Linked DNA regions of Homo sapiens. The protein of the gene in region 1 purifies or fractionates together with the protein of each later gene. This does not show direct contact. Each region holds a gene or a part of one and is shown in the gene's direction. Other genes may lie near its edges.

Evidence for each region. The genes of interacting proteins can lie anywhere in the genome.
Region 2: the proteins of UBASH3B (region 1) and INPP5D purify together in Homo sapiens (affinity purification with western blotting; one study listed by BioGRID). This does not show direct contact.
Region 3: the proteins of UBASH3B (region 1) and SH3BP1 fractionate together in Homo sapiens (co-fractionation; one large-scale study listed by BioGRID). This does not show direct contact.
Region 4: the proteins of UBASH3B (region 1) and MCCC2 purify together in Homo sapiens (affinity purification with mass spectrometry; one large-scale study listed by BioGRID and IntAct). This does not show direct contact.

Annotation. Positions count from the first base shown.
Region 1 is NC_000011.10:122,776,507-122,781,690, forward strand, and holds part of UBASH3B (ubiquitin-associated and SH3 domain-containing protein B), read left to right. Parts: intron 1-517; coding exon 518-704; intron 705-2,990; coding exon 2,991-3,189; intron 3,190-5,184. UniProt on the Homo sapiens protein: Interferes with CBL-mediated down-regulation and degradation of receptor-type tyrosine kinases. Promotes accumulation of activated target receptors, such as T-cell receptors and EGFR, on the cell surface.
Region 2 is NC_000002.12:233,065,742-233,070,925, forward strand, and holds part of INPP5D (phosphatidylinositol 3,4,5-trisphosphate 5-phosphatase 1), read left to right. Parts: intron 1-5,184. UniProt on the Homo sapiens protein: Phosphatidylinositol (PtdIns) phosphatase that specifically hydrolyzes the 5-phosphate of phosphatidylinositol-3,4,5-trisphosphate (PtdIns(3,4,5)P3) to produce PtdIns(3,4)P2, thereby negatively regulating the PI3K (phosphoinositide 3-kinase) pathways.
Region 3 is NC_000022.11:37,641,569-37,646,752, forward strand, and holds part of SH3BP1 (SH3 domain-binding protein 1), read left to right. Parts: intron 1-263; exon of another isoform or gene 264-970; coding exon 971-1,047; exon of another isoform or gene 1,048-1,326; coding exon 1,327-1,438; intron 1,439-1,529; coding exon 1,530-1,606; intron 1,607-2,058; exon of another isoform or gene 2,059-2,075; coding exon 2,076-2,220; intron 2,221-3,068; coding exon 3,069-3,137; intron 3,138-3,301; coding exon 3,302-3,392; intron 3,393-3,796; coding exon 3,797-3,942; intron 3,943-5,184. UniProt on the Homo sapiens protein: GTPase activating protein (GAP) which specifically converts GTP-bound Rho-type GTPases including RAC1 and CDC42 in their inactive GDP-bound form.
Region 4 is NC_000005.10:71,589,240-71,594,423, forward strand, and holds part of MCCC2 (methylcrotonoyl-CoA carboxylase beta chain, mitochondrial isoform 1 precursor), read left to right. Parts: intron 1-3,686; coding exon 3,687-3,753; intron 3,754-5,184. UniProt on the Homo sapiens protein: Carboxyltransferase subunit of the 3-methylcrotonyl-CoA carboxylase, an enzyme that catalyzes the conversion of 3-methylcrotonyl-CoA to 3-methylglutaconyl-CoA, a critical step for leucine and isovaleric acid catabolism.

The DNA of each region.
Region 1 (5,184 bases):
TCATAAGATCTGTCCCTGCTCCAGTCACTTAAAGATTCATTTTAGGGGTATGGATATTGAGAAAATCCATTTAGAAAAGTACCCTACTTATCTTCCAGGGTATCCCTACCCAGGGTGGGTCCTACAAGGTTACCTCTCTGGGAGCTTCCCTTGTCTTTGGAGGGACATGGGTTTAATTACAGGCTGACCTGAGGGACAGGCTGGGTTGGTCCTAGTGGATTGGGAAAGGATTTGGAGTTGATCCAAGAATGCTTCCTGGAGAGCGGTTTTAGGACTTTTTTAGGGAGTTGTAGGATGAGGAGGCAAAATGACAAGAAGGAAGACAGAAGTTGCTGCATCTGAGAATTGGTTATGAAGTGTGAGTTTCCAGAAGTAGATTTTTAAATCATGAATGAAAACCCTTCCCCGCGCTGTGCCGGGGATTTGGAGCACATGGAGGGTGGATCTGTCTCTCAGTTCTTTTTTCCCCTCCCATTATTCTCAAGCGACACCTTGTTGGCTTACTTCTGTCTTACAGGTTATTCTCCCATGTCGGTGACCCCTTCCTGGATGACCCCCTGCCCCGGGAGTACGTCCTCTACCTCCGTCCCACCGGCCCCTTAGCACAGAAGCTTTCCGACTTTTGGCAGCAGTCGAAGCAGATCTGCGGGAAGAACAAGGCACACAACATCTTCCCCCACATCACACTCTGCCAGTTCTTTATGGTGAGCGGCAGCGCCCCCACCCCTGGGAAGCCTGGCTCCTAGGATCCCAGCCGGCCCTTTGGGACCTGGAGCAAAGGGAGGCCTCGCAGGAAGACAGCAGGAATAGTCACAGGCTCCTACAGCTGGAGGGACCTTCAAGGGATCAGTGAGGTCCACAATGGGCCCCTCACCCCAACGCTTCCTAGTTTTATCTGCTGAGGCCCAGGAGCACCCCAGGATGGGGGCAGCACCAGATTGTAACCCTCTGTGAGGGACACACTGGTCTGGCTGCTGGAATAGAATCACTGATCTAGCTTCACACCTGTTTGCTGTCTACCCTCTCCACTCTTACGACAAGCAAAGAGGAGGAACTAAGAGCAGGGAACAACAAAGGCAGTTTATAGACAGGGAAAGCCATTTCCTGTCCACAAGTTTTTTTTTTCCCGCTATATATTTCTAGAGAATGCAAAGATATTTACTTGCCATTGTTACCTAGTGTATAATCCTAGCTGTCAGAAAGCTTATCTACTGACCAATTTTTGTTGTTGTTGTTGTTTTGAGACAGAGTCTCACTCTGTCACACAGGCTGGAGTGCAGCAGCATGATCTCGGCTCACTGCAACCTCCACCTCTCGAATTCAAGCGATTCTCCTGCCTCAGCCTCCCAAGTGGCTGTGATTACAGGCATATGCCACCATGCCCGGCTAATTTTTGTATTTTTAGTAGAGACGGGGTTTCACCATGTTGGCCAGGCTGGTCTTGAACTCTTCACCTCAAGTGATCCGCCCACCTCAGCCTCCCAAAGTGCTGGGATTATAGGCATGAGCCACCATGCCTGGCCTCTACTGACCAAATATAATCCCCCTCACTATCACACATGTAAATACATTTTGTCTACTTTAGCTCTCTGTGGTAATAGAGAAGAGTTGATTTATCTCCATATATTCAAGACCAAACAAAGTGGTAGCATTTTAAACCATTTTTATAAAAAATATTTTGCTTTCTTCCCCAGATATATTCTCTCTCTTTTTCTCTCTCTCAGGTAATAATAATGTTCCTAACACCTTCTCTTTTACCATTCACTCTGAAAATTAAAGTGACTGTCATTTCCTCTTAGTCATCCCAGGATCTTTCTCAAAACCCTTCAGAGTTTGAGAGACGTTCATTCTTTTTTCCAATGCTCTCAGGAAGGTAGGAGGATGATGTCACAGCTCTCTGGGACTCATTCTTCCCAACTATCATGAGGGTGGATGTAGAGTCAACTTCTGATCATCTAAGAGGAAAAGAAAAGTACAGATGATACAAAATAGTAGAAAACACGCAGCTTCTCCTGGGATGCTGCACTCTCTCCTGTCACATTCCTTCATTTTTTTTTTTTTTTCACAAGCAAGGAGAACTTTGATTTTTTTTTTCTTTTTCTTTTTTTTTTTTATGGATATATAGTCTCTCTCTGTCACTCAGGCTGGAGTGCAGTGGCGTGATCTTGGCTCACTGCAACCTCTGCTTCCCGGGTTCAAGTGATTCTCCTGCCTCAGCCTCCCAAGTAGCTGGGATTATAGGCGTCCGCCACCATGTCTGGCTAATTTTTGTATTTTTAGTAGAGATGGGGTTTCACTATGTTGGTCAGGCTGGTCTCAAACTCCAGTCCTCAAGTGATCTGCCCGCCTCAGCCTCCCAAAGTGCTGGGATTACAGGCATGAGCCACTGCGCCCAGCCTGATTTTTTTCTAATTGATAAAAATTATATACATTTATGGCGTATAACATGATGGTTGAATATATGTATGCATTGTGGAGTGCCTAAATCAAGCTAATTGTACATGCATTACCTCGCATGCTTATCAGGCATTTGTGGTGAGAACACTTAAACTCTACTCTCTTAGTAATTTTCAAGCATATAATATGTTATGATGAACTATAGTCACTGTGCTGTACAATAGGTCTCTTGAACTTATTTCTCCTAAGTGAAGTTTTACGTCCTTTGACCAATATCTCCCCAATCTCGCTCCCCTTTCTTGCTTTCGGCTCAACCAGTCCTGCAGCATTTTGGCTGGGTTCACGGGGGCCACTTCACAGCAAGGAAAGGAGGGAAGAGGTCATGTGTTCCCCACATTAATCCACCAGTTGGGTAATCTGTGTCTGAATAATTGGAAGTCTGCAGTTCCTCTCTCCCCACAGACAGGGGTAGTGGTTAAGTAATTGCATTATCAGCCTCCTCCAGTCTCTGGGGAGAGGATGCCAATGTTAAGTAGCAGCAGACTTCCATCTCCCCTTGTCTCTGAGTGAAGACTGCCTGTTTTCCCTGCCAGTGCGAGGACAGCAAGGTGGATGCCCTGGGGGAAGCCCTGCAGACCACGGTCAGTCGCTGGAAATGTAAGTTCTCGGCCCCGCTGCCCCTGGAGCTCTATACGTCGTCCAACTTCATCGGCCTCTTTGTAAAGGAAGACAGTGCGGAGGTCCTCAAGAAGTTTGCTGCTGACTTTGCTGCAGAGGCTGCATCCAAAACCGGTGAGCAAACAGCTGCCAGGCCAGCCCTGGGCCCTGTCAATCAAAGAGTTGGAAAGGAAAAAGGATAGGAAATAGTGGTAGAGGAGCAGGATGGGGTCAGGAGGTGGAGGACCCTGCAGGAATGGACGTGTGACAAAAAAACAGCCTTTTCCTGCAGCACCCCACGTCTTGCTCCCTTGTAAAAACGTTCAACCCCTCTTCTGCTGACCTGGAGAGACCGTCTAAGGCTTATTCCCTAACACCCAAGTTGAAGTTTCACAAATGACTTCCATACTGAACTAGAAATGTATTTCTTTGTAGCACCACCATCTCCTCCTAATTCAGAATTAAAGAAACATCCTTTCTCCCTCCCAAGCTCCCGCCCATGTAGGTGTTTATCTGGGTCTCATTGTTCACTCCATGACAATCCAGATCTTTTCTCAGTGGGTAGCAGAGGATAGAGAGAAGAGTGGAAGCACTTCGTATTATATCACAATAAAATCCACTGAACCAATACCCTTCAACTTGCTGAAAACCATTAGACAGGACCCCAAGCCCCAAGAGTCTGTCTAAAAATGTAACCCCTTCCAAATGTCTCCTGCTCTTCTCATGGGAGCTCTTAGTTCAGGACACCTGAGATTTCCTGTCAAAGGAATTAGCTTAAGGGGGTGCTCAAGGCAGGAGACACGATGGAGGTGAAAAGAGGGAGAAGTTTGCAAAGCTCTCCTGTCTGACTACAGGTGTGGACAAGCTCACTTAGCTCAATGACAGCAGGGAAACAGACAGACAATCTGGTGGGGGGAGAGCCTCTTGGCTCGCTCCAGCATGAAATCACAATTGGCAGGTACTTACTGGTCACCTACTATGAGGATTTCTCCTACATGAGGAGTGCTACAGGGAAGAGAACAAGAAGTGGTTTCTCCCGGCCAGGCCCTGTGTAACATCAGCTCTGAAAAGAGAAAGGGGTGGTTCTACCTTCACGGAAGGAAGGAAACTTGCCCTGGGACGATGTTGATCAGGACAATGGAGGAAAGGCCTGCAGGCGGGCGGGTGGCAGGAGCACAGGCAGGCAGGCATGAGATGGTGTGAGCAGAGGACAGTGGGGAGGCTGCCCTGACCAGAGTGGATGGTGCAGGATGCACAGTGGAAGCCGAGTGCTGAGTGCAAAGCTGGAGGAGACGTACAATTCCCCTACCCCTAATTTTAGGGAGTGCCAGAGAGGGGGAAGACCTGAGCAAGGCCGCAGTTTGCTCCTTAGCCTTTTGGCCTTTGGCCTATCCCTCACCTGCCATTGTTCCCTGCTGCTATTTTCATCACCATCTCAGGCCCTTTGTTCCATATTCCTCTTTACCAGAAAAGCACCACACAGGACTTGGGACCTATGAGTGGGATCGGGGCTCAGTATCACTGCAGGATCACAGTGCTCTCGGAAGGAACACAAGGACCTTAAGACCCCTCTGTACCTGGGGAGGGGTCCTCTTTAGACTTTGCAACCCCCACCCCCACCTCTTCCTCTCCCTCAGCGACGGGACTAGTCTCCGGGTCCTGACTTCAGTGAAGCCTGACATTTCATAGGAGCTTAATATTTCAGAGAAAGAGCATAACTGAGAGGCAAATTATTTCCTGCTCTTATCCCTCAATCTCAAGGAAATGGCTTTCTCTCATCCCACAGTAGTTATTGTCAGAACCACTAAATCCCCACAAGGACCAAAACTAATGTCAAAGCCGCAAAACCCAAATCCTTCACAAATGAGAAAAGCAAGCCTCAGCCAGGGCCGCACAGATTCTTGGAGTGCATACTGAGTGAGCAGCAGTCGAAGCCCCAGCTTTCCCTGTGGGACGCGGGTGGAGCCAATTCCTCTCCAAGATCCTGCTGTCATGAAGAACTTGGCCGGCTTCGTTTCTCTGCTGTTGTGTGGCCCCCTGGTGGGGATGTGGAGAACTGGATGACCCTGCGCAGCTTAGCTGGTCCCGCTCCTTATTACCCAGCATGGGAAGCCGGCCACCATGTCTTTG
Region 2 (5,184 bases), on another chromosome or scaffold:
ATTCAAGCAATTCTTCTGCCTCAGCCTCCTGAGTAGCTGGGATTACAGGTACCCACCACCATACCTGGCTAATTTTTGTATTTTTAGTAGCGATGGGGTTTCACCATGTTGGCTAGGCTGGTCTCAAACTCCTGACCTCGTGATCCACCTGCCTCGGCCTCCCAAAGTGCTGGGATTACAGGTGTGAGCCACCGCACCTGGCCTTTTTTTAAAATTATTATTATTTTATTTTTTATTTTTGAGACACGGTCTTTCGCTGTTGCCCAGGTTGGAGTGCAGTGGCACAATCACAGCTCACTGCAGCCTTGCTTGATCAAGCGATCCTCCTGCCTCAGTTTCCCGAGTAGCTGGTATTCCAGGTGCAAGTCACCAAGCCTGGCTAATCTTTTTTATGTAGAGACAGGGTTTTGCTATGTTGCCCAGGCTGGCCCCCAACTCCTGGAGTCAGGTGGTTCTCCCACCTTGGCCTCCCGAAGTGCTGGCATTACAAGTGTGAGCCGCTGCACGCAGCCTCACATCAGCACCTCTCAATCAATTGGTGCCATCTCCCTGCACATGAACCCTTGCGTCATGATGACATGTGGTCCTCACAGCCAGGCATTTCTCCCCACCCCAGACATAGAGTGAGAGGAGCTCTGCTCTTCCCTCAATAATTCGTGCCATGCTGTGCACTCCTGAGGAGCAAGGCTCTGTGGTCTGCTGGCTCTGCTGGGCTGCATTTGCAAAATGCTAACCTTCCTGTGTCAACCCAGCATCTTCACAGGTGGAATGAGGATGACAAGGCCAAAGCCCACTCGTTGGGTTATTTTTTCAAATTGAGGTATAATTCATATTCCATACAGTCACCCTTTCTATGGTGTACAATTCTTAATTTTCTTTTTTTCCAAGACAGTCTTGCTCTGTTGCCCAGGCTGGAGTGCAGTGGCATGATCTCGGCGCACTGCAACCTCTGTCTCCCGGGTTGAAGTGATTCTCCTGCCTCAGGCTCCTGAGTAGCTGGGATTACAGGCGCATGCCACCATGCCCGGCTAATTTTTTTTTTTCTTTTTGAGACAGAGTCTCATCTCACCCCTGTTGCCCAGGCTGGAATGCAATGGTGTGTTCTTGGCTCACTGTAACCTCCGCTTCCTGAATTCAAGCAATCCTCTGCCTCAGCTTCCCAAATAGCTGGGATTACAGGTGCCTCCCATCACACCCAGCTAATTTTTGTATTTTTAGTAGAGACGAGGTTTCACCATGTTGGCTAGGCTGGTCCCGAACTCCTGACCTCAGGTGATCTGCCCGCCTAGGCCTCCCAAAGTGCTGGGATTACAGGCGTGAGCCACTGCACCTGGCCCTGGTATACAATTCTTTATCGTGCTTTTAGTGCATTCACAATGTTGTGAAACCAACACCACTGTCTGATTCCAGGACATTCTCAATACCTCGAAAAGAAAAGAAACCCTGTACCCACAGCAGTCACTCCCTATTCCCTCTCCACCCAAACCCTGGCAGCAACTAAATGACTTTTTGTCTATGGATTTATCTTTTCCGGATGTTTCATAACTGGAAACATACAACATGTGGACTTTGGGGCCAGCTTCTTTCACTGAGCACAATGCTGTCAAGCTTCATCTGTGTTGTGGCATGAATCACTCCTCTCCAGGGCTGACTAATGAGCCACTGTATTGAAAGAACCACATTTTGTTTATCCATTCATCAGTTGACAGGCATTTGGGTTGTTTCCACTTTTGGGCTATAATGAATAATGCTGTGATGAACATTCATATACAAGGTTTTGTGCAAACATATATTTTCAATATTCTTGGGTCTATATCTAGGAGCAGAATTGCTGGGTCATTTAAGTCTAACACTTTGAGGAACAGCTAAACTGTTTTCCTTGGTGGATCCACCATTTTGCATTCCTACTAGCAACATCTGAGGGTTCCAATGTCTCCACTTCCCTACCAGCACTTGTTATTATCTTTTTTATTATAGCCATCCTAGTGGGTGTGAAGTGATGTCTTATTGTGGTTTTAATTTGCATTTCTCTAATGGCTAATGATGCCAAACGTCTTTTCTCATGGTTAATGGCCATTTGTATTTGGAGAAAAGTCAATTCAGATCCTTTGTACATTTAGAAAACAGGGTTGTTTGTCTTTTCCTTGTTTCCTTGGGTTATCAAGAGGACAAAATGGAAAGATGTGAGTGACATTTACAGCCCAAGTCCAGGCATGTGGTAAGCACCCACCGAATGCTTTGCACACATAAAAATCATGCTGGTGCTGGGCAAGGTGGCTCATGCCTGTAATCCCAGCACTTTGGGAGGCCGAGGTGGGTGGATCACCTGAGGTCGGGAGTTCAAGACCAGCATGACCAACATGGAGAAACCCCATCTTTACTAAAAATACAAAATTAGCCTGCGATGGTGGCATATGCCTGTAATCCCAGCTACTCGAGAGGCTGAGGCAGCAGAATTGCTTGAACTTGGGAGGCAGAGGTTGTGGTGAGCCGAGATGGCACCCTTGCACTCCAGCCTGGGCAACAAGAGTGAAACTCTGTCTCAAAAAAAAAAAAAAAAATCATGCTGGTGATCAGGTGTGGTGGCTCACACCTGTAATCCCAGTACTTTGGGAGGCTGAGGCAAGAGGATCATGAGGTCAGGAGTTTGAGACCAGCCTGGCCAACACAGTGAAACCCTGTCTCTACTAAAAATACGAAAAATTTAGCTGGGCATGGTGGCGGGTGCCTGTAATCCCAGCTACTTGGGAGGCTGAGGCAGGAGAATTGCTTGAACCCAGGAGGTGGAGGTTGCAGTGAGCCGAGATCGTGCCATTGCACTCCAGCCTGGGCGACAGAGCTAGAATCCGTCTAAAAAAAAAAATCGTGCTGGCAATTAGTCTTTATGAGCTAAAAGTGACTAGTGACATCTCAGAAGCAGAGGAGTACAGGACCCATCTGTGAAGAACATTCCATACAGAGGAGAGAAGAGAATGGGGGCAGAGGATTGCTTAGGAAACTTCCTGGAGGCCTCTGGGGGATGCTGAGTTGTCACTTGAGGCCTCCTTGGAGGAAGCACTCAGAGAGATGGAAGCAGGAAGAGGACTGAGTGATGCCCCTGTGACGGAGGCTGCTGGGGACAGGGCTGGGAGCCTGGAAGCCAGCAGGAGGAAGGGATGGGGGCACAGAGGCACACAGAGTGAAACCAGGGGCAATGAACATGACATCAGGAAGAAAGGCAGGCATCTGAAGACCACTGGGCTCCAATTGAGGGGGTGGGTGCAGAGGGTACTGAAGTCCTGGGGCTGAGGACGATGGAAGGAGCACAGCATGTTCCATGACGGGGGTACTCAGGCTTGACAGGTGCGGCAGCACGTGGGGACCAGATTCTCTCCCCTGCTCACTTCAGGCTCCTGTTGTCCCCTTTCATTAGGAAAACACGATATTAACAAGTGCAGGCCCCTAACAGTTTGGGTTCAATACTTACTGTAAACAACCCCACGGAGGGCTGTCCCCGAGAGATCATTTGGGACCTCCCCGGAGCAGAGAGGCTTGCTGGACCACACAGCTGTCAGTGGCAATGGAGAAACAAATAGATCTGATAAACAGCAATGTCCTGTTCTTTAGAGTCACTTTAAAAAATGGTATTTATACAAAGCACAGAAAGTACAAAGCAAAAAGCAGAAAAGTAACCACCCCATCACTGAGACACTAGAATAACCATTGTTAATTCACTGGTGTATCTTCTTCTTCTCTCTACCTCCCTGTATGTATGTAATTTCCATTTTGTATATACATGTATTACATGTATATGTATAATTTTAGTCTGAGATTTCTAGCAGCATTAGCATTTTCCCATTTAGTTAGAATTTCTTCCTAAATATCATATTTTAATTTTAGTCTGAGATTTCTAGCAGCATTAGCATTTTCCCATTTAGTTAGGTTTTCTTCCTAATGATCATATTTAATGGATGTACAGGATTCTATTACATGATGTGCGACACTTCATGAAATGATTCTTCTATTATCAGATATTTAAGTTATCAACAGCATTTTGTTGTTATAAATATGACTGATGAAGGTCTTTTGCAGAAATGTTATAAACATGTCTGGTTATAGATTCCGAGGAGTGGAATTACTAGATCGAGGGACAGGAATGTTTTTAAGGCTCTTGATACAGAATGATACATTGCTTTCCAGAAATTTTTTTCCATATATGCACCAGTAAGCTGTACAAGAGAGTGCCCGCCTCATTCTAACCTTCCTATTCTGAATATTTTCATTTCAAAACACAATACATTGCAAGGTGAAGGTGGTGAATGTTCATTTTGATTTGCATTTGATTGTGGTCACGTTGAGCTTATTTGATAGAGTTATTGACCCTCATAATCCCTCTTTCGTGAATGGTCTGTTCAATTCTCTTTGCCATTTTTCTATCGAAGCTATAGTTTTTCTGTTATCTACTTGCACAAGTTTATATCACACTTGTTGCAAATATTTTCATTGTGATTTTCCTTTAAGTTTTATGATTTTTTTTTGACATTCAGGGACTGTAAATTTTTATATAGTGAAGTCTCTCAGTCTTTTCCTTTTTTCTCCCTTCGCTTTTCAATGCAGAGAATCCCTCTGCACACAGAAATTCACTTGTTTCTTCTTGTACAAGGCAGGTGGGTTATGACAGAGACTTTGGAGCTAATAGACTTGGGCTAAGGATTCAGCAGGTTTTTTTTTTTTTTTCGAGATGGTGTCTCTGTCTGTCACCCAGGCTGGAGTGCAATGGTGTGATCTTGGCTCACTGCAAACTTCTGCCTCCCCAGTTCAAGTGATTCTTCTGCCTCAGTCTCCCGAGTAGCTGGGATTACAGGCTCCCGCCACCATGCCCAGCTAATTTTTGTATTTTTTAGTAGAGACGGGGTCTCACCATATTGGCCAGGCTGCTTTCAAACTCCTGACCTTGTGGTCCGCTCGCCTCGGCCTCCCAAAGTGCTGGGATTACAGGCGTGAGCCACCGCGCCCGGCCAGGATCCAGCAGTTTATTTAATTCCACTGGGCCCTGGTTCCCCTTTCGAAAACCAGTGCTAAGAATACCTATGTGGTAATGTTGTGGGGCAGATTGGATGGAAAATATGTATCATGTTTTTAGCACAGTACTTGGTAAAAACAAATGAAGCAGTTATGGGTTTTTTACTTTTGTTTTTGTTTGTT
Region 3 (5,184 bases), on another chromosome or scaffold:
CTGAGTGTCTGGCACCAAGGGCATGGAGACTGCTCTGTTCCAAGGCCCCTCTGGCACTGCACTCAAGAGGCCCTATACCTTCCCCATCACCTTTACCCCACTTCCCTGTGCACCAGTTCCCATAAGCCAAGGCCAGGCTTCTGACAGCACCTGAACTTCTCTGTCCAATCAGTGCGCAAGAGCAGGCTGTCAATGGGGCGGCCTCAGAGGGTTTCCTGAAGGAGGTAGCAATTGAGCTGGCTTTTGAGGGATACACGTTTATTAATCAAGAGGCAGCGTTTATTGGCTGATAACCGCCAGCTTGTTACTAACATATGAGTGCACTGTCTCATGGAACACTGGCACAACCCTAGGGGCAGGCATTGCTTTACACATGAGGAACTGGAGGCTCAGAGATAAAGTCACTTGTCCAAGGTCACATAGCTAGTAAGTGGCAGAACTGAGGTTTGAACCCTGGTCTCTGATCCCAGAGCAGGCATTCCCCGTAACTCCAGATGGGGTGGGAGTGTGGGGCCATGTTTTGGAATCAGTTGACAATTCAGTGTGGCCAAGGCAAGGAAATTGGGAGCCATAGAGCGTTTGAACTCAGCGGTGGCTAGGTCAGCCATATATACCCTGGGACAGGGGAAAGAGCTCCCGCTCCCATTCTCCCTCCACCTGTGTGACCTGGGGCAAGCTCCCTGCCCTCCCTGCATCTTAGTTTCCCAGTCTGCAGTAGGACTTGGTCATTCCTTCCTGCCCAGTCAAGTGGCTTCTGGGAAGAGGAAAGGGCACGCCAGATGGAGAGGGGCTCCATCCATGCTCTCAGGGAAATGTCACCCCCACCACGCCTTGTCATCTTGTTTCCACTCTCATCTGGGACTGTGGCCCTCCTGGGTTCCCTCCTCCCCTGCCCCAAGGGGCTGGCCTGGTGCTCAGGCAGGGTGGAGGGAGGCACGGACACTCATCGCCGGCCCCACCCTCCCTGCAGAAGAAGCTTCCCCTCATGGCTCTGTCCACCACGATGGCTGAGAGCTTCAAGGAGCTGGACCCTGATTCCAGCATGGGGTGAGCACAGACGGGGCCCAGCCCTCACCTGGGGATACCAAGACGTGATCTCAGCTGGGAGGGGGTCCAGGTGGTGAGGGCATCCACATCAGAAGAATGACCAGGCTGGGGACAGTTCCCAGGTCAGTGAGGGTGGCCAGGCCTGGGAGGGTGTTCAGCTTAGCAGAGATGAAGGATATCTAGGAGGGGCCGGAAGTGAGGGAGGAGAGGCCCCACCAAGTGTTTCCAGTGGAGGTGAGGGCAGCGGGCGCCTGGACCCATGGGGTGCCGTGTCCACAGGAAGGCCTTGGAGATGAGCTGTGCCATCCAGAATCAGCTGGCCCGCATCCTGGCCGAGTTTGAGATGACCCTGGAGAGGGACGTCCTGCAGCCACTCAGCAGGCTGAGTGAGGTGAGCCTGTGCCCTGCTTTCAGCCCCCAGCTTCCCCAGCTTCTGGCTCCCTCCTCCCCCAGCACACTGACCCCCCCATGCCCATCCCCAGGAGGAGCTGCCAGCCATCCTCAAACACAAGAAAAGCCTCCAGAAGCTCGTGTCCGACTGGAACACACTCAAGAGCAGGTGGGAGCCCCAGCCGCTCAGGGGGCTCATATCTGGGTCAGCCCACAGAGATGGTCATAGAGCTTTGAGGCCCTGGCCACACCAGGAGGATGCTGTGGGGTCTGCTGAGTACAGTGTGTGTACTTGTGCACGCCTGGTCCCTAGGAGCACAGGTGGTTAGCGTATCTGTGAGGGTGTGCCCGCGTGTGTCACAGCTGGTGCTGGGGCAACCCTAAAGCCTGGGATCCTGTAAACAGTCCTGCGGCAGCCCTGTTCTCCCCTCTGTGGAGTGGCTGTGATCACCAAATCTGCCACCAGGGGGCAACCCAGAGCACTCATGGCCCAGCCTGGGCAGAGGCCCCGGCCAGTGGAGCTCTCAGATCTGCAGCTCTAAATCCTAGAATCCCATGTGGTCTGCTGTATGGAGGGGACACTTGGCTCTGGACATGCAACAGGGCAGGTGACCAGCTCACCTTGGGATCATCTCCAGGCTCAGTCAGGCAACCAAGAATTCAGGCAGCAGTCAAGGCCTAGGAGGCAGCCCGGGTAGTCACAGCCATACGACCATGGCCAACAAGGTGGAGACGCTGAAGGAGGAGGAGGAGGAGCTGAAGAGGAAAGTGGAGCAATGCAGGGTGAGGGCCATGGGGGTCCCCTGGATATGTAGGGGTGGCAGGGGTGGGTCCTGGCCCATCTCACAGGCAAGGAAGCTGAAGTTCAGAGAGGTGACATGACTTGCCTAAGGCCACGTGGCTAGGAGCCAGCAGAGCTCCGCCATTCCCTCGTAGCCTCTTCTGTCTGTACCCCATGCATAACTTGGGAAGGCAGAGACTTGGTCTGTTCCCTGAGTCTCCATGTGTTTGTTTGCTGAGCGAGCGAGTGAATGAATAAATGAAGAGTGAATGAAAGAATGACTGAATGGTGAATAACAGGTCACTGTGCAAGGCCAGGCGCGGTGGCTTACGCCTGTAATCCCAGCACTTGGGGAGGCCGAGGCAGGCGAATCATGAGGTCAGGAGTTCAAGACCAGCCTGGCCAACATGGTGAAACCCTGTCTCTACTAAAAATACAAAAACTTAGCTGGGCGTAGTGGCGGGCGCCTGTAATCCCAGCTACTCAGGAGGCTGAGGCAGGAGAATCGCTTGAGCCCAGGAGGCGGAGGTTGCAGTGAGCCAAGATTGCACCACTGCACTCCAGCCCGGGCAACAGTGTGAGACTCCGTCTCAAACGAAACAAAACAAAAAACAAGGCACTGTGCTAAGTCTATGGAGACACAGAGATGGGGACGAGAAGCCAGAAAAGTTTGAGGGAGTTCCCAGGGGCTGGCCCCAAGCACCAACCTTGGCAGAGAGAGGAGCCTGGCTGGGACCTTCCACCTGCAGTTGTGTGGCCTGGGGGAGGTCACCAACCCTTCCAAGCCTCCTCTTCCCCTCTAGACCCCACAGCCTCACCCAACGTAAGCTCTCCCCTCTCTGTCCCCAAGGACGAGTACTTGGCTGACCTGTACCACTTTGTTACCAAGGAGGACTCCTATGCCAACTACTTCATTCGTGTGAGTCCAAGACCGGGCCCCAGCCATCCAGAGTTCAGGGGCTGAATGCCAGAGCCAGGGGCCACTGGGGCTCTAAGATGGTGGAGGGGGCGTCTGCTCTCAAGGACCCTATAGAAGGCTCAGCTTCCCCCACTTCCGCTCAGGGTGTCCCTTCATCCCCACAGCTCCTGGAGATTCAGGCCGATTACCATCGCAGGTCACTGAGCTCGCTGGACACAGCCCTGGCTGAGCTGAGGGAGAACCACGGCCAAGCAGGTGGGGACATAGGCCCGGCGATACCACACCCCTGACCCTGCCCTGCTCGGGGCTTATTGAGAAGCTCGCACTTCATCCTGAAAGGTAGCAGGAAGCTGTGGATGGGTTCTGAGAGCTAGGCTCAATCTGTGATGGAGAGGCAGCTCTGGCTACTGTGTGGAGGGTGGAGTGAAGCGGGCAGGACTAGAGCCAGGCCTGTGAGGCAGAAGGAGGCAACGGTGGCCTGGACTAGGACAGAGGCAGTGGAGGCGGGCTGATTCGAGAGATGTGACGGATGATTTCAGATGTGTGCCTGGACAGTCAGTGGCAGGTGGTACCACCTTGAGGACATGAAGGGGGGGTGCCCCTGCCTGACTGCTCGGGGTGGGAAGGCCCTGGGCCGCTGATCTGTTTCATCCCTGCAGACCACTCCCCTTCGATGACAGCCACCCACTTCCCCAGGGTGTATGGGGTGTCGCTGGCAACCCACCTGCAAGAGCTGGGCCGGGAGATTGCCCTGCCCATCGAGGCCTGCGTCATGATGCTGCTTTCTGAGGGCATGAAGGAAGAGGTGGGGTCCCCTGGGGCAGGTGGGGAAGGAGCACTGGGGCCCTCATTCTGTCCCAAACCGCCCACTTGCTGCCCTTTCCGGGTGCCTGTAATTCCCTCATTCGAGCCCAGCTCCCTGGGAGAAGACATGACTGCCTCCTGCGGCATCCACACTACCTCCCCCGTGTCAATGCTCGCGTGGGCCAAGCGCTGTACTAGAAGCCTTTGCATTCCAGGCTCCATTTCACAATTTCACAAGAGGGAGACAGAGGTAGAGAGGTAACCATGCCCAGAGTCATTTGAGAAGGTGACTTCTCAAACCAGGGGCTCCACTGCCACACACTGGCTGGATCTGCTGTGAATACATTGCCCCCCTGTCCTGAAGATAGACCCTAGTGGTGGCAGATACCCCAAAACAGTTCTGCGCTGCTCAGCAATCCTGCTGTGCTGGGGCCTCCTTTCTCCCTTACACTTTTTTTTTTTTTTTTTTTTTTGAGATATGGAGTGTTGCTCTGTTACCCAGGCTGGAGTGCAGTGGCGTGATCTCGGCTCACTGCAGCCTCTGTCTCCTGGGTTCAAGCGATTCTCCTGCCTCAACTTCACAAGTAGCTGGGACTACAGGCATGCACCACCACGCCCAGCTAATTTTTGTATTTTTTAGTAGAGATGAGATTATGTTGGCCAGGCTAGTCCTGAACTCCTAACCTCAGGTGATCCACCTGCCTCAGCCTCCCAAAGTGCTGGGGTTGCAGGCATGAGCCACTGCGCCCGACCCTTTTTTTTTTTTTGAGACAGGATCTCGCTCTGTCACCCAGGCTGTAGTGCAGTGGTGCGATCCTGGCTCACTGCAACCTTCACCTCCCTGGTTCAAGCGATTGTGTCTCAGCCTCCCAAGTAGCTGGGATTACAGATGCCCACCACCATGCCCAGCTAATTTTTTTTATTTTAGTAGAAATGGGATTTCACCATGTTGGCCAGGCTGGTCTCAAACCCCTGGCTTCAAGTGATCCACCTGCACAGGCCTCCCAAAGTGCTGGGATTACAGGCGTGAGCCACTGCACCCGGCCCCTCCCTTCCACTTCTGACTGGGCTTCCATTTCCCCATGATTTTTCCCGCCTCCTCCCAGACTTCCCAGCCCTGCCCTTTGCTCAGAATTCTAGACCTTGAAGGTTGAAGCCCGTGGACACCGTGGTGCCCACACTGCCAGCCAGACCAGCGGGGACACAGGCCTAGCAAAGGCCAGTGGCACACCCCAGGCTACAA
Region 4 (5,184 bases), on another chromosome or scaffold:
TTTGGTGATGGGTTTTGTATGAATCACCTTTTGCTAGGTTGCGCTTTGTGTAACAAATAATCAAAAAATCTCAGTAACTCACAACAGTAAATATTAGTCTCTCACTTGATTTTGTTTTGTTTCTTAATCTCTCACTCGTGTTGGTGGCCTTTGGTTAGCTGCTGCTGTGACTGTTCCACTGCAGGGTAGGTTCAGGTCTGCTCCATGTGTCTTCCCATTCCTGGACTGAGGCTGAAGAGCAGCCCTGAATTAAACATGCCCTTCTCATGGCCGAAGGCACAGGAGCAAGAGGCTGAACACAAATTGGATTTAAAATCCTTGCTGGCATGTGATGAAATTAATGTGTGCTCACATTAGACAAAGCAAGTCCATGAGGGTGGGGGAGAATGGGATGAATGATCCAGTTTAGCTGTGTTTCCTGATTACAAATAAAAGCAACTATAATAAGTAATAATAATGGCAGGAATTTTATAGTGTACCCACCATTTTTCTAAAGGCTTTATGTGGTTTTACTCATGTATTTATCATAATGATCCTGTGCAGTAGGTACAATTGTTATTTCTGTTTTATAGATGGGAAAACTGTGGTATATAGGGTCCAAGAAATTTGTCTGAGATAACACAGAGCCTGAATTTGAAGCCAGGTGGTCTGGCTCATAACTCTTGAGTCCAGGGTCTTAACTGTTGCTCTATAATGCTTCTCACTCACCCAGCTCTACCTAGGTGGGTTCTATGGTTGAAAAGATGGGGTGGGAAACTTGTCAGTGGCTCAGCTCCAATTCATTATGACTGTCAGGCACTAACCTCTGTGGTTGCTCAGCTTCACAAGAAAATTACTAGGTTGTAGAATGTTGTTTCGCAGGTGATTAAAACACACACACACACACACACAAACACAAACACCTGGCGTCCTGAGAGATCAAGATTTGCCAAATGCAGTATCAGTAAGTAGGGAAACTGAAAGTTGAACTTGGTTTTGCCACTAAACTACACTGCCTCTTGGTTAGTGAGTCTCATCCTAAGGAGGCTAGGTTGGTTGATAAAGGATTGCCTGGGAGGTGAACTGTAGCCAGTACTGGCTCTTCTGTGATTTAAGTCTGATGGGCTGAGCTTGGCACAGATGTTGCCCAGTCTGTAGAGGCAAATGTCAGCTTCAGTGGGTCAGTGCTTTTCTTCTTTGACCCACTGGTTGCTTAAAAGTACGTTGTTTAATTTCCATATATTTGTGAATTTTCCAGTCATCCTTCTGCCATTGATTTCTAGTTTCATTCCATTGTGATTGAAAGGATACTTTTGGGCCAGGCATGGTGGCTCAGGCCTGTAATCCTAGCGCTTTGGGAGGCCGAGGCTGGTGGATCACCTGAGGTCAGGAGTTCTAGACCAGCCTGGCCAACATGGTGAAACCCTGTCTCCACTAAAAATAAAAAAATTACCTGGGCATGGTGGCGCACGCCTGTAATCCCAGCTACTTGGGAGTGTGAGGCAGGAGAGTCGCTTGAACCCGGGAGGCGGAGGTTGCAGTGAGCTGAGACTGTGCTACTGCACTCCAGCCTGGGCGACACGGCCAGACTCCGTCTCAAAAAAAAAAAAAAGGATACTTTGTATGATTTCAGTCTTTTAAAATTTATTAAGATTTGTTTTGTGGCCTGACATGTAGTCTATCTTGGAGAATGTTGCCTGTGCACTTGAGAAAAGTTACATACTTTTTTCTGCTGTTGTAGGGTGACAAGTTCTGTATATTGTGTTAGCTCCAACTGGTTCTTTCCCTAATACCATGCTGCTTCCTTGTTTTTTATTTTCTGGATTTTGCAGAGCAAGAGAATGTAGCAGAAATCATGACCCTCAGAGCTCTTGGAGCTGTAGAAAATAGGAAATAATGGAGATATACTGTAGACTGAATATTCATCTAAGTTTGAACAGTTAGGAAGTTGCTTAGTGTTCTGTCAAACAGAAGGAACTAAATAACTAGAGATGCTAATCACATGGGGAGCAAAATGTATTAGTGGGCCAAGTCTGAATTTCAAAGATAATTAGCTAGTTAAGTATTGTTCTAAAGTAATATGCTGACCAAACAAAATTTAAAAATACAGAAGGGTGAAAAGTTAGTCCCTCTACCTCTTTTCTACTTCTCACTGTCAATATTTCCTTGTGTATTACTTAATTTGTGTATATATGCCAGCATAGAGTTTTGTTCTGTTTTTTTTTTTTTTTTTTTGAGATGGAGTTTTGCTCTTGTTGCCCAGGCTGGAGTGCAATGATGCAATCTTGGCTCACTGCAACCTCCGCCTCCCGGGTTCGAGGGATTCTCCTGCCTCAGCCTCCCGAGTAGCTGGGATTACAGGCAAGCACCACCTTGCCTGGCTAATTTTGTATTTTTTAGTAGAGACGAGTTTTCTCCATGTTGGTCAGGCTGGTCTCGAACTCCCGACCGTAGGTGATCTGCCCGCCTCGGCCTCCCAAAGTGCTGAGATTACAGGCGTGAGCCACCACGGCTGGCCGAGTTTTGTTCTTTTTACTAATTTATTTATTTATTTGAAACAGTCTTGCTCTGTCACCCAGGCTGGAGTACAATGGCACGATCCTAGTTCACTGCAGCTTCAAACTCCTGGGCTCAAGAGATCCTTCCACCTTAGTTGGTCAAGTCGCTGGGACACACCACCATGCCCAGATAATTTTTAAATTTTTATTCTTTTTATTTTTATTCTTTTTGTAAAGATGGAAGTCTCCCTATGTTACTCAGGCTGGTCTCAAACTCCTGGGCTTAAGCGATGCTCCTGCCTCCGCCTTCCAAAGCTCTGGGATAACAGACATAAGCCACCACACTCAGCCTGTTCTTTTTAAAACATAAAATAGGATCCTTGGCCAGGTGCGGTGGCTCATGCCTGTAATCCCAGCACTTTGGGAGGCCGAGATGGGCAAATCACTTGAGGTAAGGAGTTTGAGATCAGCCTGGCCAACATGGCGAAACCCGGTCTCTATTAAAAATACAATAATTAGCTGGGCATGGTGGCACACACCTGTAGTCCCAGCTACTTAGGAGGCTGAGGCAGGAGAATCGCTTGATCTCGGGAGGCGGAGGTTGCAGTGAGCCGAGATTGCACCATTGCACTCCAGCCGGGGCAACAAAGGGAGACTCTGTCCCAAAAAATAAAAATACAAAATTAAAAATAAAAATAAGATCCTTTTTCTCCCTCTGGGATTTGTTTTTAAGTGTACTTTGTCAGTAAGCAAGCATTGGTTGGAATCTCAGATAGTGACTGATGGGACAGGAAAAATAAGATGGTATTCTAACCTTCAAAAAGCTTATATTCCTTAAAATAGGAAAACAAATAGAGATCAGTTTAAGTTCAGAAGGTGTTTAAGGAAGAAAGATGTTAAATTGAGTAGGAGTGGCCAGAAGTAGAGTTGAAGATGAGATAAAACATGAATTAGGCTTACAGAGGAGTAAGATATGGAGAGATGGACAAGTGGGGTGGTGAAGAAGAGCTTGAACAAGACAGGCAGGGGTGAATCTTTTCCATACGATCCAGTGGCCCAGCGTGGCTGCCACAGATGGGGTGGCCCAGTGTGGCGGCCACACAGAGTTGGCACAGACCACTGTTTTTTTTTTTTTTTTGACCTTTATTTTGGTAAAAAGGAATTGCTTTCTAATATTTCTCTCCCCTGTCTCCTCTATTTCTGTTTTAGGAGAACTACAAGCAGATGAAAGCACTAGTAAATCAGCTCCATGAACGAGTGGAGCATATAAAACTAGGTAAACACAGCATTTATTCCACAGCTTATGCCTTTACTTAAGATGTCCTAAAATAGTTATTGCTTTTAGGAAAAATACTGGAATTAAGCTTTTGATATTTTTTTTTTTTTTTTGAGATGGAGTCTTGCTCTCTTGCCCAGGCTGGAGTGCAGTGGCGCCATCTCAGCTCACTGCAACCTCCGCCTCCTGGGTTCAAGCCATTCTCCTGCCTCAGCCTCCCAAGTTGTTGGGATTACAGGTGCCTGCCTCCATGCCTGTCTAATTTTTGTATTTTTTAAATAGAGACAAGGTTTCACCATGTTGGCCAGGCTGGTCTTGAACTACTGATGTCAAGTGATCCATCTGCCTTGGCCTCCCAAAGTGCTGCAATTATAGGCGTGAGCCACTACTCCTGGCTGAGCTTTTGACTCTTAAGACTATGCATTTGTTGGTATGCAGGCATTTAATTTTATTTTTCCTATTACTTGGCCAGTTTTTCTCTTCATAGAGTACTACCACTTTTGGGGGGAAAAGTAAAGATTCAAATTCATAAATTTTATGAATAAATAATTTATTTTTAATTTTTATTAATTTTTTTTTTAAGAGATGGGTTCTTGCTCTATTGCCAGGCTGGACTGAACCCCTGGCTCAAGCGATCCTCTCATCTTGGCCTCCCAAAGTGCTGGGATTACAGGTATGAGCCACCACACCTGGCCAGTGATTTCTTAGTAGGCATTTAATATTTCCTCCCTAAGTGCTGAATCTCAGATGGAAAGCATTCTTCATATTTGATAGACTGTTTCAGATAACTTTTATCAACAAGTATATAATACTTAAAATTGTATATAATACTTTTAATGTAAAATTTTACATTTAGGTTAGAGTAGTTTAAATACTGGATCTCAGGAGTATAAAAATAGTGAAGAAGACTGGATTTGGAAAGTATGGTCTAGAATTGCTTATTTACTAGTTTATTTAGAGACAGGGTCTCCTCACTCTGTTGCTCGGGCTGGACTCGAAGTCGGGAGCTCAAGTGATCTTCTTGCCTCAGCCTCCCAAGTAGCTGAGACTGTACCTGTGCCCCTGTACGCAGCTATGGAATTCATACTTTTGAAGCCATTTTAGATCAAGGTGTTGTCTCCAGAAAAAGAATTCAAACTCTTGCTGAAATGAAAGTGTTTTGTTAGGGGTGATAACTCAATTGTTATGCCCATTTTGAGAGTTTGATTTGGTGAACTCACTGTCCCCCTTAGACATTAAGATGGTGGGTTTTGGGGCCAGGCACAGTGGCTCACGCCTGTAATCCCAGCACTTTGGGAGGCCGAGGTGGGCGGATCACATGAAGTCAGGAGTTCGAGACCAGACTGAGCAACATGGTGAAACCCTGTCTCTACTAAAAATACAAAATTAGCTGGGTGTGGTGGCGCATGCTTGTAATCCCACCTACTCGGG